Regions from separate parts of the Homo sapiens genome. Here region 1 is linked to region 2. A link means that fine-mapping ties the variant in region 2 to the expression of a gene that starts in the linked region. Tissue or cell type: esophagus muscle. Region 2 holds a variant in brackets; the other region holds the start of a gene. All regions are shown on one strand. Distances are between the middles of the regions.

Region 1 (8,939 bases), 35 kb after region 2:
CAGGCTGGTCTGGAACTCCTGACCTCAGGTGATCCACCTGCCTCCGCCTCCCAAAGTGCTAGGATTACAGGCATGAGTCACCACGCCTGGCCTAATTTAAAAATTTCAAGATTTGAGAAACAACATTAATTTAGCCATTTAACAGAATACTGTTAGAAAGATCATTTAAAAATAGTATCTGTCTGGCTGAGTGCGGTGGCTCACACCTGTAATCCCAGCACTTTGGGAGGCCGAGGTGGGCAGAATACTTGAGGTCAGGAGTTCGAGACCAGCCTGGCCAACATGGTAAAACACTGTCTTTACTAAAAAGAAAAATACAAAAGTTAGCTGGGCACGGTGGCAGGCGCCTGTAATCCCAGCCAACTTGGGAGGTTGAGGCAGGAGAATTGCTTGAACTCAGGAGGCGGAGGTTGCAGTGAGCTGAGATGGCACTGGCACTGGCACTGGATGCCACTGGCACTCCAGCCTGGGCAGCAGAGTGAGACTCTGTCTCAAAACAAACAAACAAAAAAATAGTATCTATCCTCCAAAGGACAACAGAATCGATTTTTTTTTTTTTTTTTTGAGATGGAATTTTGCTCTCGTCGCCCAGGCTGGAGTGCAATGGTGCAATCTTGGCTCACTGCAACCTCTGCCTCCCAGGTTCATGCAGTTCTCCTGCCTCAGCCTCCCGAGTAGCTGGGATTACAAGCGCTCTCCACTACACCCAGCTAATTTTTGTATTTTTAGTAGAGACAGGGTTTCACCGTGTTGGCCAGGCTGGTCTCCAACATCTGACCTCAGGTGACCCACCTGCCCTGGCCTCCCAAACTGCTAGGATTATAGGCGTGAGCCACTGCGCCCAGCCCAACAGAATCAGTTTCTTCATGTTGATCAGTATAAGCACCTTCATTCTATACAAAATGTTTTCCTTTACAGATATTGCATGCATAAATGTACATGCCCTTTAACTGCTTTTAAAGGCATGACTATTCTTTAATATTATCAAAGAAACCATTAAATAGCTAATAGGATAAAACAAAATAGTTTTGCCACTGCAGACTTTGTAAATGAAAATTAATCAAACAAACAAAATGTATGAAATTAAAATGATTACCAAAAGAAGCTTGATTTATCTTGCAACAAAAATTAAAATTATTGCAAAGAAAAGGAACCGTTACCAGGACACAGAGTTATCGGGACATAGTTTGTAATCTCAAAGTAACACAAGGTTATGAAATTAGCACACTTTAAAATTGTTAAGTAAGATTCTTCTTTATAAAGACTAGTTTCAGCAGGTATTTGTTGTATGACCTATATTAATTGTTTCAATGCAGATCTCAGTGGACAAAACATCTGTAAAACTAAAAACCACTATGAAGTTTCCACCCTCACTGGTAATCAACATAAAAGTACCTGGATATAGAACAATCTTCATTTTAGAGGGGGATTCCTTCTGATATGGATTGAAGTACATAGTTAGTATGGGAATCTTGCTTTGAGAAAAAGGTAAAAATAATAGATTTCTATATTTAAAAGAAGAAGAAGAACAACAACAACAACCACCACCCCAAACTCATAAAAGGGTATATGTCTACAACAGGTTGAAATGTTTGGTACTAATAATGAATGAGCTGTTCAATCTGAATGTACCAGAAAGAACATTAGTAAGACATGGTACTTTATAATGATTGATGACCTAATTCTATAAAGTACTGTGGATTATCTCCAAGACTCAAGACTATTAGCAGTCTAAAGATATAACTGTATGAATGACCACACAATCATTTCAAATTAGTAGGGATCCTTACTAGGACAGAATCCTCTGGTTTCCTGCTGATGACAAAGTTATGGGGAAATAGTGTTACATAACACGTGTCATACTTTGAAACATGTTCCCGCCCAAATTCCACACTTTGACAAATCGGGATAGACATAGATGATAGAGTCCTTTAAGAAAGCAAAAGATCCTGGAAATGGCAGTCTTATTAAATTAAAATAAAGAGCCAACCCAATCAAAGCATGGGAATTCGGTTACTTCCTTTCAACAGACCTTAAAAGGGTAAGAAATCCAGTCAGTAAACAGCCACCCAACCACCACTGTTAGTAGGAGCTAAGTGAAGAAACTTACTCTGTGCCCAGCCTTAGTGGAATGAAGAAGTTGATTGCAGACAGGGGGGATGAAAAAAAAAGGGTGAAACATGACCAATGTTAAAAGAAAGCAACAAAAAGAAACCAAAAAAAAAAAAGAGAACAAAAAACCCATACCAAATGAGCAAACAATTGTTAATGATTTCTGAGTGTTATGAAAGAAAATGTTAAAAATCAGCTGTGCTCAAAACAATACCAAAATAAATATTTGCTTTATTTTTGAACATGACACACACACTTTTTAATAAATTTGTCTTGTCAGTTTCTCCTACTTTTCCTAATCTTGTTCTGTACATCGACTTCCATCTCTGTTTTCCATTCTGTTTAGATTTTTATAAGATTTTATAAAATAATGAATTTGGATTTCTACAAGACACTGTGGAAAATTTATCATCAGTAATAGCTGAAAGGCTAACATTTTCTGGATTCTTAGGGTTTAATTATTCAAGTATATGGATGTTAATTATCTTACATTCAAAATTCTAGTAGCTGGAAAATTATGCTGCGGCTAGGTGATTTTTTGTAGCTGATGCAACACAGCACCATGAATACATTATCAAGTGTTGAACAAATCAACTAAAGGTGAAGACAAAATAATAAAAACAAACACATTTATTCAGGTAAAACTGGACCTTTCCCACACTTGAATTTGCTGCCCACAGACTCTGGACACTGTACTGAGTGTTGAACGTCTGTATCCTTTGCCAAATAAAATGCTTTTAATCATGAAAGAACTGGCTAATGCTAAATTTTTCCCAGTTCTATTTCATATGAAAAATGATGTTCCAGTACAACTACCCTAAATAAGAGGGATCACTTCTCAAACAACTTGAGAAACATTAATATTTTGAAACCATGGCAAGTAATTATGTCTTCTCCCATGGATAGGTGTCTCGAAATTACTGTAAACGGATTACTTTAAATTGGAGTCTGTTTAGAAGCAAAAATTAAAAGTGAGATTAAAGATTTTAAAGAAGCATGCACCATAAATCTCTGGCTGCCATGTCTGTAAGTCCCCCTCTTGAAAAGGCTGTTTGTCATGCAATAGTAATAATCTTAAAAATGCATAGCTTCTTTGGTTTCCTTGTAAAAATAAAAAAGAATGCAATAAATGCCTGTCAGAGGTAGACGTCCCTTTACAGCCAACCTCCATCAACACAAATATGAAGATAATCACAGCTCCATTTCAAACAATTGATTTTTTTTTTTTTTTTGAGCAGCAGCAAGATTTATTGTGAAGAGCGAAAGAACAAAGCTTACACAGGGTGGAAGGGGACCCGAGTGGGTTGCCCCAAACAATTGACTTTTTAAGAGTCAAAGGCACCTTTGAAAATATGATTACAGGCCGGGCGCGGTGGCTCACGCCTGTAACCCCAGCACTTTGGGAGGCCGAGGCGGGTGGATCATCTGAGGTCGGGAGGTAGAGACCAGCCTGACCAACATGGTGAAACCCCGTCTCTACTAAAAATACAAAAATTTAGACGGGCTTGGTGGCGGGCGCCTGTAATCCCAGCTACTCGGGAGGCTGAGGCAGGAGCTGAGGCTTGAACCCGGGCGGCATTGCAGTGAGCCGAGATCGCGGCATTGCACTCCAGCCTGGGCGACAGAGCGAGACTCCATCTCAAAAAGAAAGAAAGAAAATATGATTACAGCTCTGAGTCCTCTCTAGTAGAGGCCCCCAGTTTTTATGTAGGAAGGTCTGAGGGGCACCAAACTACTGGGGGTGAAGGGGTGATTGCTTGAAGGTGGCTGGGGGAGACTAGGTAAGTCTCCAACACCGGCACTCTCCCCAGAAAAATGTGTATATTCACAAAAATTTCCCAACAGTTTCAATGAGTTCACACATCATTAAGGAATCCTACCCTAAAGAGGCGTAGCAACCCGTGGAAAGAAACAGTTCCAGCAATTGCAAGCGCCAAATCCCGCCCTCTGAGAGCACACCTGCTCATCTCAATGGCAGCTAGATGTTATTTCAGGAGCGAGGAGGGTGGTTTATTCCCTTTCCCTAGATGGCAAAGTTAAACGGGTACGAAATTCTGCTCGCTACTTCCTGTTCTGCATTCGAGAGGCCAGCTTCCACCACTACACCCCAACCAGCGGGAGGTGCTTTTTGCGGGAAACGAGTAGGAACCGTCTGGAAACGGAGGACCGTGCCCCTATCCCCGGAACATTCGAGGTATAGGACCAAAGGCCTTCCCTGGCTCGGGCGTGCGTGTCTCGTGACAGGTCGGGCTGCTAGAGGGGCCTTTTTACCCCTTGGATGGCCTCTGGCCCCTTGGGGCCGGGATACGAGACCTAGGCCAGCCGCACCCAGAGGTGGCCGCTCCCTTCCTTCCCTAGACCTCTTCTGGGCCTTTCCCAGGCCAGCGCCTGGGCCCTGACGCCGAGGCCTCCGGGATTTCCCAATTCCTCGCCCTCGGCCTCCCCACGGCTCCCAACAACGCAGCACCCCACCCGAGAGCCAGGCCTTGGTCGCCGCAACTGCAGCCCTCACCATCCTGTCACCGGGCTCCGCTCAGTCACCACCACCGTCGCCGCCCTCTTCCTCAGGCTCCTCGGCGACCCGCCCACTTAACCGCAACCAATGAGAGCAGAGGGAGACAGAAATTGCCGTACGGAGGCCCGCACGGACCCTTCTCCGCCGTAAAGCCGTTTGGGAACTTGTGGAGGCGGGGTGGTAGAGTGCAGAGACGAGATCGCGAAGCTTTGAAAAGCGCGGGCAACATCCGGGCACCTGGGCCGTCGAGCTGAGGCGCGCCTTCCGAGCCTGCTTTTTAGGGCGGATGGCAGCCATGCTGAAGTGCGTGATGAGCGGCAGTCAGGTGAAAGGTGGAGCGGCCTTTGTTGTCTTCCCATTTAGCAGAGAGAAAAGCAGACGTTAATAGGTCGTCCCTACCATTGTCTAATTTTTCCTCTTTGCCTTTTTGCGCAATGACTGAGGACGCACGCCCTGGCCACAGCCCCACCCACTCAAGTCCCTGTTAACTTCTGAGGGGAGGATGAGGACCCATCTCGTGTGACTTAGAGGCAGATGTAATATGGGTGGTATCCGGGAAATAGAGTTGTACCATCGGGCCACAAACTCGGGATGCTGAGGACTGCATGGGGAAGAGTTGAGAGAAAAAAATAATGCTTGGACAGTAAAAGTATTTTTGTGCCAAGAGAACAGCATTAACCTGGTTTTTTTTTTCCCCAGATTCTACCATTTTTAAAAATGTATGAACTTGGAAAAGTCACTAAATCTCTTTGGGGCTCAGTTTCTAAAACGGAAACAGGGGTAATGACAGCACCTTCGTCACAGAGTTTGTTTGGAGGCAATGAAATGGAAATGCGTGTAAAGAGCCCAGTAATAGATGGAATGTACAAGAACTATTAGTGTTGTAAACGGCGCTTTCAAAATGGAAGTTAGGCCGGGTGCAGTGGCTCACGCCTGTAATCCTAGCACTTTGGGAGGCCAAGGCGGGTGGATCACCTTAGGTCGGGAGTTCGAGACCACCCTGACCAACATGATGAAACCCCGTCTCTACTAAACATACAAAAATTAGCCGGGCTTAGTGGTGGGCGCCTGTAATCCCAAGCTACTTGGAAGGCTGAGGCGAGAGGATCGATTGAGCCCGGGAGGTTGAGGCTGCAGTGAGTTGAGCTCGTGCCACTGCACTCCAGCCTGAGTGTCAGAGTGAGACTCTGTCTCAAAAAAAATAAAAAATAAAAAGAACATTAACAATGTCGTACGGGATCAGACTAGTGTGTTTTCCAGCCCTAAATGTGTTCTGTGGTGGGGAAATCTGGCTGCCCTCAAACATCAGAGATGTATGTTGGATACCCCTAATTTCTCTCTCATGACTTGTTGTGACTTGGCTATCAAGCTATTAAAACCACTTCAGATTATCTTCTCCATGCACTGTTTTCACAGTTTTTGGGGGGTCAAATACATTTATCTAAATCAAGTTGTAAAATACATTAGTATGGAAATTGGTTTGCACAGTAGCTCCATGCAACACTGTAAACATATAGAAGGACAAATTTCGGTCAATTTTATCATTTCACACACTACAAATTTATTGAGCCCTGACTATGTGTCTGGCATTTTGCCAAGGGTATTATACTGTATTAAAGTAATGTAGCATTAGTCTGTAAGATACTGTTATTTTTGAATTTCTCTTGAGTCCTCTGAATGCTGAACTAGTCTTGTGATTTGTTTTTATTGTTAGAGGGAAAGAATATAAGCATCACCTTTCTTTTTCTCCATAGTATTTGGGAAAGCAGTTCAAGCTCTATCACGAATTAGTGACGAGTTCTGGCTAGACCCATCTAAAAAAGGTGTAAGTAAGAAAGTTAACAGATCACGTATCAAGGCAAGAGGAGATGTTTAAAGATCCCAGTCCAGATTGAATGTTAACTAGGAAATCCAGAAATTGTAATTATCCCTTTCACTGTTTATCTTTATTTTACATATCTGAATACACTTAGAGCATGGTAAAGTTGAAAATATGCAGATAAGCTTGATTGATTTAAACTGGAAGTCACAAACTGGTAGTTAAGAGACTAGCTACGGTCTGCAGGAATGTTTGTTGGCCTGCACTGTTTTTTTTTTTTTTTAATTTGAAATAATTTCCAACATTTAAAAATTGAGGCCGGGCGCGATGGCTCACGCCTGTAATCCCAGCACTTTGGGAGGCCGAGGTGGGTGGATCACCTGAGGTCAGGAGTTCGAGACTAGCCTGGTCCACATGGTGAAACTCCTTCTCTACTAAAAATATAAAAATTAGCCTGGCATGGTGGTGGGCACCTGTAATCCCAGCTACTCGGGAGGCTGAGGTGGGAGAATTGCTTGAATCCAGCAGATGGAGGTTGCAGTGAGTGAGCCGACATGGTGCCACTGCACTCCAGCCTGGGCAACAGAGTGAGAGTGAGACTCCGTCCCAAAAAAAAAAAAAAAAAAAATTGAGTCAAATTTTTCCTGCTTCTCTTGAAAATTCAGAAGACCTGACAGTTTTGGGACTGCATTCATTCCCAAGTGGAAGTAGTTGGCTGAAACTGAGTAATGGTTTCCCCGCTTAGACAAGGTGTGAGACCGCCAATATGCTGTAACTCCCTTATATATTGCAACTCCCTTATATATTGCCTTTTGCCATTTCACACATTAAGGTTAAGGCTCATGACTGGGTGTGGTAGTTCACAAATGTAATCCCAGCACTTTGGGAGGCTGAGACAGGAGGATCACTTGAGCCCAGGAGTTCGAGACCAGCCTGAGCAACAAAGCAAGACACTACCTGTCTCTACAAAAAAATTTTAAAAATTAGTCGGGTGATATGTTGTGTGCCTGTAGTCCCAGCTACTTGGAAGGCTGAGAGGAGGGAGGATTGGTTGAGGCCAGGGGTTTGGAGGCTGCAGTGAGCTGCGGTGGTACCATTGCACTCCAGCCTGGCCAACAGGCTGGTTTTTTGAAAAAAAGTAAAAAAGAAATTAAAAGAAAGTTAAGGCCCCTGTAGGCATTTACTATTTTATGTTTTCAACATGTAAACTTTTAGATTTAACACATATATGTATTCAATATAATATACATATATGTATACACCTATATATACGTACATGCTTGTATATATACATGTATGTACACCTATATGTATGTATATATATAGGTGTATAATAAATTAACAGACTTGTCCTGAATGCCATTTAAACTATCAAGTATAGAATACAGGTTATGTCCTGTATATATTATAGGTGTACATATATGTATATATATGCAAATTCAATACAGACTATATAGGGCAGTCCATAATTAACATCCCATGTTCTTATTTGAACACATTTAACTGTGATGTTAAACATAATGACGTTTTCTGAATCAAGCTATTATGTAAAGAAAGTTTATTTTCTCCTAAATTTTTTTAAAATAAAAAAATAGAGGTGGGGTCTTGCTCTGTTGGCCAGGCTGGTCTCAGACTCCTGGCTTCCATCCATCCTCCTGCCTTGGCTTCCCAAAGTGCTTGGATTACAGGTTCATGGGAGCCACCATGCGCAACCTCTCCTAAATAGTTTTTATCTTATTTTTCTAGCTTGCTCTAAGATGTGTGAATTCTTCTCGGTCAGCATATGGATGTGTCCTGTTCTCTCCTGTGTTTTTTCAGCATTATCAATGGTCAGCTTTAGTGAAAATGAGTGAAAATGAACTTGACACAACACTGCATTTAAAATGCAAATTGGGAATGAAGGTAAATATAAGTGGCCCTGGTTTTCTCTTATTCTGTAGAAATATTCATTATATAGGACATAACCTGTATTCTATACTTAATAGTTTAAATGGCATTCAGGACAAATCTGTTCATTATTATTATTATTTTTGAGACAGAGTCTCGCTTTCTTACCCAGGCTGGAGTGCAGTGGTGCAATCTTGGCTCACTGCAACCTCTGCCTCCCAGTTTCAAGTGATTTTTGTGCCTCAGCCTCCCAAGTAGCTGGGATTATAGGCGTGTGCCACCATGCCTGGCTAATTTTTGTGTTTTTAATAGAGATGAGGGTTTCGCCATGTTGGCCAGGCTGGTCTTGAACTCCTGACCTCAAGTGATCTGCCCACCTCGGCCTCCCAAAGTGCTGGGATTACAGGCGTGAGCCAGTGCACCTGGCCAAGTCTGTTCATTTTTTTTTTGAGACGGAGTCTCGCTTTGTCGCCCAGGCTGGAGTGCGGTGGCACAATCTCGGCTCACTGCAAGCTCTGCCTCCCGGGTTCACGCCATTCTCCTGCCTCAGCCTCCCGAGTAGCTGGGACTACAGGCGCCCGCCACTACGCCTGGCTAATTTTTTCT
Region 2 (10,225 bases):
TAAAGTTATAAAATTGAAAAAAAAAAAGACTCCATCTCAAACAAAAACAAACAAAAATAGAAAAATTAGTCAGGTGTGCTGGCATGTGCCTGTAATCCCAGCTGCTCGGGAGGCTGAGGCAGGAGAATCACTTGAACCCAGGAGGCAGAGGATGTAGTGAGATGACATGGTACCACTGCACTCCAGCCTGGGTGGCAGAGAGAGACTGTCTCAGGAAAAAAAAAATCACCAACAGGAGAGGCTTAAAAAATTCTGGTATGGTTATCTTACTAATTTTGGGGAATCAGTATATAGAATCTTCTACCTTAGGTTTTTACTTATTTTTGTGCTCAAACCTACATTCTCCATTCACAAAGGACTGAGCTTCATTCACAGTCACATTTATACTGACAACACCTTCCTACCCCCTCCCTCAGCAATCAATAACAGATAACTGATCCAAATTGGGACAATCAATCTGGCTTTCTTTCTTTTTAGACAGGGTCTCACTCTGCTGCCCAGGCTGGAGTGCAGTGGCATAATCATGGCTCACTGCAACCTTGACCTCGTAGGCTCAAGTGATCCTCCCACCTCAGCCTCCTGAGTGGCTGGGAATAAAGGCACCCGCCAGCATGCCAGGCTAATCTTTGTATTGACTTGTAGAGATGGGGTTTCACCATGCTTCCCAGGCTGGTCTTGAACTCCTGGGTTCAGGCCATCCATCTGCTTTGGCCTCCCAAAGTACTGGGATTACAGGTGTCAGTCATAGCGCCCATCCTAAGTCCTCTTTTTAACTAAGCTAGCTTAGAGTGGTTTCTGTTTGCTGCAGCCAAATGGTTCCAAAGTAATACAATGCCTTTTTTCTCAAAGAAAAGCATTTCACATCTCCTCCTCTCCCTTCAATCTGCCTCCCCGCAACCTGCTCACTCATTAACAGAAATCAGAAGTTTCCCTTTGCACTTAGTGAGTGCAAAGAGAACGTCCCCAAACCTAAAACGACCTGTCTCCCTCCACAGGAAATTATATCATACACTGAACAAAGCTGTAAGACCTCACCCTTGATTCCTTACTTTGCTATGCCTTCTTGGTTCAATCCCCCACAAAATGCTGTTAATTCAACTTGCAAAATATATTGAATCTGTCTGCTTCCTTACATCTCCACCGTGACCACCCTAGTCCTGGTGTACACCTGGCTAACTACAACAGCGGCAGTGCAGGTTGTACTTCTTTTTTTAATTTTAAAATGGAGTTTTGCTCTTGTTGCCCAGGCTGGAGTGCAATGGTACGATCTCGGCTCACCAGAACCTCTGCCTCCCGGGTTCAAGCGATTCCCCTGTCTCAGCCTCCAGAGTAGCTGGGATTACAGGCATGTGTCACCACACCCAGCTAATTTTGTATTTTTTTTTTTTTGAGACGGAGTCTCGCTCTGTTGCCCAGGCTGGAGTTCAGTGGCGCGATCTCGGCTCACCGCAAGCTCCGCCTCCCGGGTGCACGCCATTCTCCTGCCTCAGCCTCCCCAGTAGCTGGGACCACAGGCGCCCGCCACCATGCCCGGCTAGTTTTTTGTATTTTTAGTAGAGACGGGGTTTCACTGTGTTAGCCAAGATGGTCTTGATCTCCTGACCTTGTGATCCGCCTGCCTCGGCCTCCCAAAGTGCTGGGATTACAGGCGTGAGCCACCATGCCCAGCCATGCAGGTTGTACTTCTACTCTCAACCCACTAGAGTCCATTTTTCATCTGAGCACCTGAGTTATTTTTTAAAACATAAATCAGGCCAAGTGCGGTGGCTCATGCCTATTATCCCAGCACTTTCGGAAGTCAAGCTGGGTGAGTCACTTGAGCCCAGGAGTTTGAGACCAGCCTGGAAATCGAGACCAGCCTGGGCAATGAGACCAGCCTGGGCAACATGGAGAAACCCCGCCTCTACAAAAAATACAAAAATTACCCAGGCATGATAGTGTGTGCCTGTAGTCCCAGCTACTTGGGAGGTAGGAGGATTGCTTGAGTCCAGGAGGTTGAGACTGCAATGAGCTGTGATCAGGCTACTATACTATATAGCCTGGGTGACAGAGTGAGACCTTGTCTCAAAAACAAAACGACAACAACAACAAAAACAAAAAAAGGCCGGATGCAGTGGCTCACGCCTCTAATCCCAACACTTTGGGAGACTGAGGCCAGCAGATTGCTTGAGCTCAGGAGTTTGAGACCAGCCTGGGCAGCATGGTGAAACCCTGTCTCTACAAAAAAAAAAAAAAAAAAAAAAAAAAAAAAAAAAGTATAAAAATTAGCCAGGCATGGTGGCACGCATCTGTAGTCCCAGCTACTTGGGAGGCTGAGATGGGAGGATGGCTTGAGCTCAGGAGGCAGAGGTTGTGTCACTGCACTCCAGCCTGGGCGACAGAGCTGGACCCTGTCTCAAAAAAAAAAAAAAACCCCAAAACGTGTATCAAATGTCAATCCTTTCCTCTTCTTAAAACCCTCTAGTGGCACCCCACTGACAACAGGATAAAATCCCATCTTATCATGTCCTGTTAGCCCCTACCCACTTCTTTCTTTCAGACATTACGCTTTAGCTCACTGACATCTTAGCTTTCCTGGAGAATACCAAATCCTTTCTCACCTCCAGGCTATTTATTTATTTATTTTATTTTTCAGAGATGGATCTTGCAATGTTGCCCAGGCTGGACTTGAACTCCTGGGCTCAAGTGATCCTCCCACATCAGCCTCCCAAGTAGCTGGGACTACAGGCACATGTCCCTGCACCCAGCTTGGCATATTTATTGATCTAAATGTTCCCTCATTTTGGAAGGACTTTCCTCAGCCTGAGGAGCATATTACCATCCTTCAGGTCTAGGCTCAAAGATCCCCTCCTCAGAGTCACCATTCTCCCTGACAATTCTAGCTAAAGCAACCTCAATGAGTACTTCTCATGAGCCTGTCTGCAGTCATCACATTCTGTAACATGTTCATCATGTTGTTTATTGCCTATTTCCTAAAGGGTTGGTGTGGGCAGGGATAATGTCTGTATTATTCTCTGCTATAACTCCGGTGTCTGGCGTAAAACAGGTGTTCAACAGACACTTGAATGAACAAATTGAAAGAATTAAAAAAAACAAACCCAGGCTCCTGACTTATAGTGATCAGCAATATACCACATGATTCACTACAGCAGGACTAAGGACAAAAGGGACAGAATGAAAGGGTGCTGAGGGAAGTGTCCATTTACTTTTTTTTTTTTTTTTTTTGAGATGGAGTCTCGCTCTGTTGCCCAGGCTGGAGTGCAGTGGCGCAATCTCGGCTCACTGCAACCTCTGTCTCCTGGGTTCAAGCGATTCTCCTTTCTCAGCCTCCTGAGTAGCTGGGATTACAGTCACATGCCACCACACCCAGCTGATTTTTTTGTGTTTTTAGTAGAGACAGGGTTTCACCATGTTGGTCAGGCTGGTCTCAAATTCCTGACCTCGTGATCCACCCGCCTCGGCCTCCCAAAGTGCTGGAATTACAGGCATGAGCCTCCGCGCCCGGCCCCATTTACTTTTAAATCTTACATCAAAGACCAAGAAAGGATACTGTCACACATATCACCATGAACAGATGTGACCAAATGACAAGCTCATGCTATTTACCATAACACCAGGGATCCAGACTATAATAAGTATCAGTGCTAAGCAGCTAGTACTCACTGCCTCCCCAGCCCTTACTGTTCCTGAAGGTGGGGGGAGCCTTTGCTCAGGACTTACCAGCCATCACGGAGTAGTTGAAGTGTTCTGCTGCTGGATCCAGGTTTACAACTTGGACAGACCGGTTGAGGGCTTCACAGTGCTGGACCATGGTGGCACAGTAGGTGCTCTGTAATGTCACAAGGCATGAGAGGTTAAAGCAACAGGTAGTGTAGTGCTACCTTCCATACTCTGGAATACTATCCACTAAGGTCAAAACTATGCCTTCATCAACCAAGAGGCTGACTGACAACAAGGGAAAAAGATACCTGACTGGGCTGCAGATTCAAACCTGACTTAGACTCATGGGTACCTCTGGGGAATTTACTTCTCCACTCTGCCCTTCAATTTTCGTGTCTCTAACTGGGATGTCCTCCATAATCACTAAGGCTCCTTACTGTTCTAAATGTGACAAGCGGTATTTAAAGGGAAGAGTTCTGGTTACATAGTGTAACACCTAACACAGTGTCTCTACCAGGACTTGTACAGT[G/C]CAAACAAAGCTTTAGGTAGGATGGTCAGGGATGATGTCTCTGAGTAGGGGAGATATGAGTATATGAGAAGGAGTTTGCCAACCTAAGGGGAAGAGCATTCCAAGATGAAAGAACGCCAAGATCAATAAATAGTCTGGAGGTGGCTATCAGTTTGTAACTTTTGGTTTAGATAATTCTTTATCCATTATGTAGTTGTTACCGTACTATGTTAACATCTCGGGCTGGGTGCAGTGGCTCACACCTGTAATCCCAGTACTTTGGGAGGCTGAGGTCGACGGATCACCTGAGGTCAGGAGTTGGAGACCAGCCTGGCCGACATGGTGAAACCTCGTCTCTACTAAAAATACAAAAATTAGCTGGGCGTGGTGGCGTATGCCTGTAATCTCAGATACTCAGGAGGCTGAGGCAGGAGAATCGCTTGAACCCGGGAGGCAGAGGTCGCAGTGAGCTGAGATCACACCACTGCACTCTAGCCTGGATGACAGAACAAGACTCCTGGCTCAAAAAAAAAAAAAAGTCTCTAGGCTACTTGTCTGTGTCATACTCTGTTTAAAGGCAGAGATGTGTCTTATTCAGTTTCCCAAGCACAGGGACTAGCGCAATACCTAGTACATAATAAATACTTGATAATTGTTTCTAATTGACTTATTATGTTTAAAGATAAGCTCCACAAGGGCACGGATTTTGTGTGTGCATGTTTTTTTCCCCATACAACCCCCAGGGCCCAAAACAGTGCCTGGGATAAAGAACGTACTCAAGGAATGTTTCTGATAGTAAGCATCAAAAGCTTATAAAGATACTTGTTTAATACAATCAGCCCAAAAATTAAAATAGACTATAGAAAAAACATCCATCATGCTGTCCTCTCAGTGCCTTTACACATACTGTTGTCTCTGTCTGGAATGCCCTCTCCATACATCACACACTGTATCTTTTTTTTTTTTGCAAAGGGTCTCACTGTCACCCAGGCTGGAGTGCAGTGGCACCATCATAGCTCACTGCAGCTTTGACCCAGGCTCAAGCGATTCTCCAGCCTTAGCCCCCCGAGTAGGTGGGACTATAGGCTCTCGCCACCATGCCCAGCTAATTTTTGTATTTTTGGTAGAGACAGGGCTTCACCATGGTGCCCAGGCTGACCCTGAACTCCTGGGCTCAAGTGATCTGCTGGCCTCAGCCTCCCAAAGTGCGAGGATTACAGGCTTAAGCCACCACACCTGGCCACATCACACTGTATCTTAATTGACAGGTCATCTATTTGTCTTCCCCAAAAGACTACAGACTCTGGGTAAGTTAAAGGCCATAGGTATCTTAGTTACATGTACATGTTTTTACCCAGAATAAGTCAACAGCTTAGAACAATGTGTTTGTTAAAGACTGAGGCCACACAACACCTCCACAGACTCTAGTGTTTCCACACTTCTTCTTTTTTTTTTTTGCGACAGTACCTCTGTCACCCAGGCTGGAGTGCAGTGGCACGATCACCACTCACCACAGCCTCAACCTCCTGGGTTCAGGTAATCCTCCCACTTCAGCTTCCCGAGAAGCTGGGACTAGAGGTACCTGCCACCAGGCCTGGCTAATTTTTGCATTTTTTTGTAGAGACAGAGTTTCGCCGTGTTGCCAAGGCTGGTCCCAAACTCCTGGGCTCAGGCGATCCGTCCACCTCCATCTCCCAAAGTGATAGGATTACAGACGTGAGCCACCACGCCTGGCTATGTTTCCCACACATATGTTATTTGATCCATATCTTCACCATTCTCACTGTATTTGAATGTTCCTAACATTCCCTTAATATTTGTTTACAAGAAAAAATTTTATCCCTACTGTAAACTGAAAACCACTTATATTTGACATAACGTGAAATTAGACATAAAATTATATAAAATCTTTAAATGTTCTATTTTTAGCTAAATACAGGTGCCTATTAAAAGCTCTGAGACTAAGAACTGCTCTCTGAAAAGACCTGGGGATTAAAGAAGTGCTGAAGATACACACTAGCACCGAGCACAACTTCTCCTAAATGCGAAGTTGAGAACTGAAAGAGAAATGAAAAGGGAACAATTTCCCTAACACATTATCTGATGCTCCTTAATGTGGGGTCCATGTACCACCTACCACCTAAAAGCACCTTAAATACCAAAAGTCCATGTCCCAAGTTCTGAGAAACAGTAATTAATGAGACCCCACTTTACCCTCCTGGGAGCGAGACAGGGCCGGATTCTGGAGTTGAGACAAAACTGGATTTATATTTTTTTGCGGGGCAAAGAACTTAATTAACCTTTCTGTATCTCGTTTTCTGTAAAATGAGAAAAATGAGATCTCTCTCACAGGGTTGTTGTAGAAATAAGCGAGGCGTTTCATCTGCTGCCTGGGGCTTAAGTATACAATAAATATTAACAACTACCATTATTTCCCTTTCAAAACAACAACAAAAAAGAACGTGAAGCCAGACAGCAGAAATGAGTTGCGTGGGGTCTCAGGGTTCCCAGTACACACACCCGCCGGCTCACTCCCTCAGGACCCAATCTCCCGCCTTCCACGAACTCCTACTTTTCTCTCCTTGTCCCCGCAGATCCTCACCTTCCCGCTGCCCGCGGGGCCCATGACCAGCTGCGCATACCGAGGCATGTTGGCTCCCGGAGCCGCCCGCCACACTCCCTTAGCCTTCGCGCGACGCCCACTGAGCTCCGGGAAAGTGAAGTGCGAACCAATCGCAATCCACATTCTTTCTACGCCTCCAGTTCTACCACACCTCCTACTACGGGGCAGCCCGCGGGCCAAATCCCGTGAGAAACGCGTCCTGAGAAAAAAGGGGAGGGGCGAGGGAGAGGATTTGCGCGTGCGCAAAAGTAGTTGATGGAAATCGGCCGTTGGGATGCTGTCTAAGCTTGGATACCTGAGTAATAACGGACAACAGATAAAGCTCCGCATCCTTGCGCCACGTGCTTCGGTCCGTGGTTTGCGTGCAGACGTTTGACCTGTATGGTGACCCTCGCGATTTGCAAATGTGCTGAGGATCTGGAATACTGAAGTGGAAGGCACCTCTTGTTTTGGGGAGCATGTATATTTCCCTCCTGTGACGCACTGCTTCCACAGAGAGGTGCAAACGTGCAAACGCTCAGCGACCGCAGCGCTCCTGCCCCTCCCCCACCGTAACTCCGGGGTCGCGGATCTGCCCGCCCCGCTCTCCCGAAGCTGTTCGGGCAGTGTCCGAACGGCTTCGGAGGGGCGAGAAGCCAGCATCCGAGCCGCCTCTCCGGAATACCAGCAGCCTGACGCACGCGTGCTGTCGGGGGAGGGATGCTGGGACAGCTGCTCCCGCACACGGCTCGCGGTCTCGGCGCCGCGGAGATGCCCGGCCAGGGTCCGGGGTCCGACTGGACGGAGCGTAGCTCTTCTGCAGAGCCGCCCGCTGTGGCCGGGACCGAGGGTGGCGGCGGCGGGTGAGGTTGGGGGCCCCGGGGTAAGGGTGGCAGCATGGGGCCCCCGGGTCGTGAGGCCCCCGGGTCGTGAGCCCCGTGGAGGAGGGCTGCGGCCGACCTCTCGTCTCGGGGGCTGGCCCCGGTGCCCTCAAGTGAGAGGCGGGGAGCAGTTTTGTTGTGGACAGAGGGCAGAGGGGAGGACTGCCTCGCGGTTGAGGGAGGGTCTCTGAGGGAAGCTTCGGAGGAGCGTTTGGTGCAGTGGCCACGAGGTGACTGCGACAGTCGCCCGCGTGCATCTCTCTGCCCCGAGGGGGCGCTGCGAGCCCTGCTGGGACGTTTGCTGTCTGGCACAGGACTGTGTGTCCACCGAAAGGCGAGGCGGGAGGGACAGAGGAGGAAGATGTCCCCCGGTTCAACTGGGGGCATCCAGGCCCATAAACCAGTTCCTTCCCTCTAGTGACATGAGCCACCTTCCTGTCAAACGGGGATTTCTTTTTCTTTTTTTTTCTTTTCTTTCTTGTTTTTTGAGAGCGAGACAGTCTCGCTCTGTTGCCTAGGCTGGAATGCGGTGGTGCGATCTCAGCTCACTGCAACCTCAGCCTCCCAGGTTCAAGTGATTCTCCTGCCTCAGCCTCCCGAGTAGCTGGGATTACAGGCGCCTGCCACCACGCCCGGCTAATTTTTGTATTTTTAGTAGAGAGGTGGTTTCACCATGTTGGCTAGGCTTGTGTCGAACCCCTGACCTCAAGTGAGCCGCCCGCCTCGGCCTCCCAAATTGCTGGGATTACGGGGTGAACCATTGCGCCCGACCTCAAACGAGGATTTCTAATCGCCAATGAGACCAATGACTGAATATCCGAGGTGCCTTGATCTTGACATTTTCTTCACACTGAAGTTCCTTTTTTCACAAATCTATTTCGTTTTGAGCAGGTTTTTACACCTATTTCCTAGATAGTGAAGACAGCGAGCTGTTGAAGTCACTGCTGGAGACTCTACCTCCTCTTCCTCTCCCTACTTTATTCCCTAAAAGCAAGAACTGCGATATGTTTGCCGTTCAGTACAACCCGCAGTCAGGGCCCCTGTTGCACCCATGGCCATCCTTTTTGTTTTTTTTTTTTTGAGACAGAGTCTCGTTCTGTTGCCCAGGCTGGAGTGCAGTGGTGCCATCTCAGCTCACTGCAAGCTCCGCCTCCCGGGTTCACGCCATTCTCCTCCCTCAGCCTCTGGAGTAGCTGGGATTACAAGCGCCTGCCACCACGCCCGGCTACTTTTTTGTATTTTTAGTAGAGACGGGGCTTCACCGTGTTAGCCAGGATGGTCTCGATCTCCTGACCTCGTGATCCGCCCGCATGGCCGTCCTTTTTGTCTCTGGTGCTACTGAAGACTTCTTAAAGATGGGATGGAGTCTTGGGTTTCTTTTCTGTTCTTCACAGTCCTTGGCCGACTGCAGGATCCTGGTGTATCAGGAGATACGTGAATTTTTTTTTTTTTTTTTATTGAGACAGAGTCTCCCTCTGTCACCCAGGCTGGAGTGCAGTGTCACGATCTCAGCTAACTGCAACCTCCGCCTCCTGTGTTCAAGCAATTCTCCTGCCTCAGCCTCCCAAGTAGCTGGGACTACAGGTGTGCGCCACCACGTACCTGGCTAATTTTTGTATTTTTAGTAGAGATGGGCATGAGCCTGTAATCCTGGAAGGTTCTATTATGATCCCCACTTTATGGATGACAAAACAGGCACAAAGAGGTTGTTTGTCCTTTCCTTTTATCTCCGCCTGTCGTTCATCTCCATGCTTCCTTTAGTTTATCCAAACTCTTAAAACTACAATTAAAAAAAAAGACAGTATGCCCTTCAGTTTGGTTTAAGGAACCCCATTAAAAAACACAAACCAAGACTAATTTATGAAAAGCTTATATTCCCAGAAATACAAAATAAAATTTTCAAACTAGAATCAGGTTTATTATGCTACATGATACAATGTTGGCACTGGCAGGGGTCTTAAAAATCATCAATTCCGGTCATATTTACTAATCTGAAAGGGGAAGTGATCTGCCAAAAATCCCATTATTAACTAATGGGAACTCCGGAACTCCTTACTTTTTTTCTTCTTTTTTTTTGAGATGGAGTCTCGCTCTGTCACCCAGGCTGGAGTGCAGTGGTGTGATCTTGGCTCACTGCAACCTCCGCCTCCCAGGTTCAAGCGATTCTCCTGCCTCCTGAGTAGCTGGGACTACAGGCACGTGCCACTACGCCTGGCTAAGTTTTTGCATTTTTAGTAGAGAACGGGGTTTCACCATGTTAGCCAGGATGGTCTCGATTTCCTGACCTCGTGATCCACCCGCCTCGGCCTCCCAGAGTGCTGGATTACAGGCGGGAGCTACCGTGCCCAGCACTTTTTTTCTTTAAAGTCAGGTTTATTGAGGCATAATTTACACAAATTAAAGTCTTACTTTTTCATGTATAATATGATGGGTTTTGACAAATGCACATGGCTATGTAAGCACTGCCACACTAAAGATACAGAGCAGCTCTATCACTCCTTCAAAACTCCCTCATACCTTATAAAGTCAACCTTTGAGAAAGGAAGACACAGGAGGGTTGCCAGCAGAGAAGTG

What was found. PIP is the estimated chance that this variant, and not a neighbour inherited with it, causes the effect.
Region 1: RAD9B starts here. The variant in region 2 is fine-mapped to the expression of RAD9B in esophagus muscle (GTEx, PIP 0.98). The same link has a PIP of 0.9 or more in lung.

The regions. Positions count from the first base shown.
Region 1 is chr12:110,497,425-110,506,363 of GRCh38, forward strand. It overlaps RAD9B (RAD9 checkpoint clamp component B), which reads left to right and starts at 4,907. Exons shown (of 11, transcript NM_001286535.2): 1 at 4,907-4,959; 2 at 6,382-6,452; 3 at 8,193-8,348. The coding sequence starts at 4,914. It overlaps VPS29 (VPS29 retromer complex component), which reads right to left and starts at 4,687. Exons shown (of 4, transcript NM_016226.5): 1 at 4,625-4,687. The coding sequence starts at 4,627. LOC124903015 (a long non-coding RNA gene) reads left to right here. Exons shown (of 2, transcript XR_007063458.1): 2 at 1,317-2,401. RefSeq lists a silencer at 1,700-1,994 and an enhancer at 4,516-4,655.
Region 2 is chr12:110,461,386-110,471,610 of GRCh38, forward strand. It overlaps GPN3 (GPN-loop GTPase 3), which reads right to left and starts at 6,872. Exons shown (of 8, transcript NM_016301.4): 1 at 6,771-6,872; 2 at 3,721-3,829. The coding sequence starts at 6,818. FAM216A (family with sequence similarity 216 member A) reads left to right here and starts at 7,460. Exons shown (of 7, transcript NM_013300.3): 1 at 7,460-7,633. The coding sequence starts at 7,491. It overlaps LOC124903016 (a long non-coding RNA gene), which reads right to left. Exons shown (of 3, transcript XR_007063459.1): 2 at 9,254-9,431; 3 at 8,904-9,066. RefSeq lists enhancers at 6,984-7,113, 8,034-8,203 and a silencer at 7,524-7,833. The variant G/C (reference allele first, on the strand shown) is at 4,190.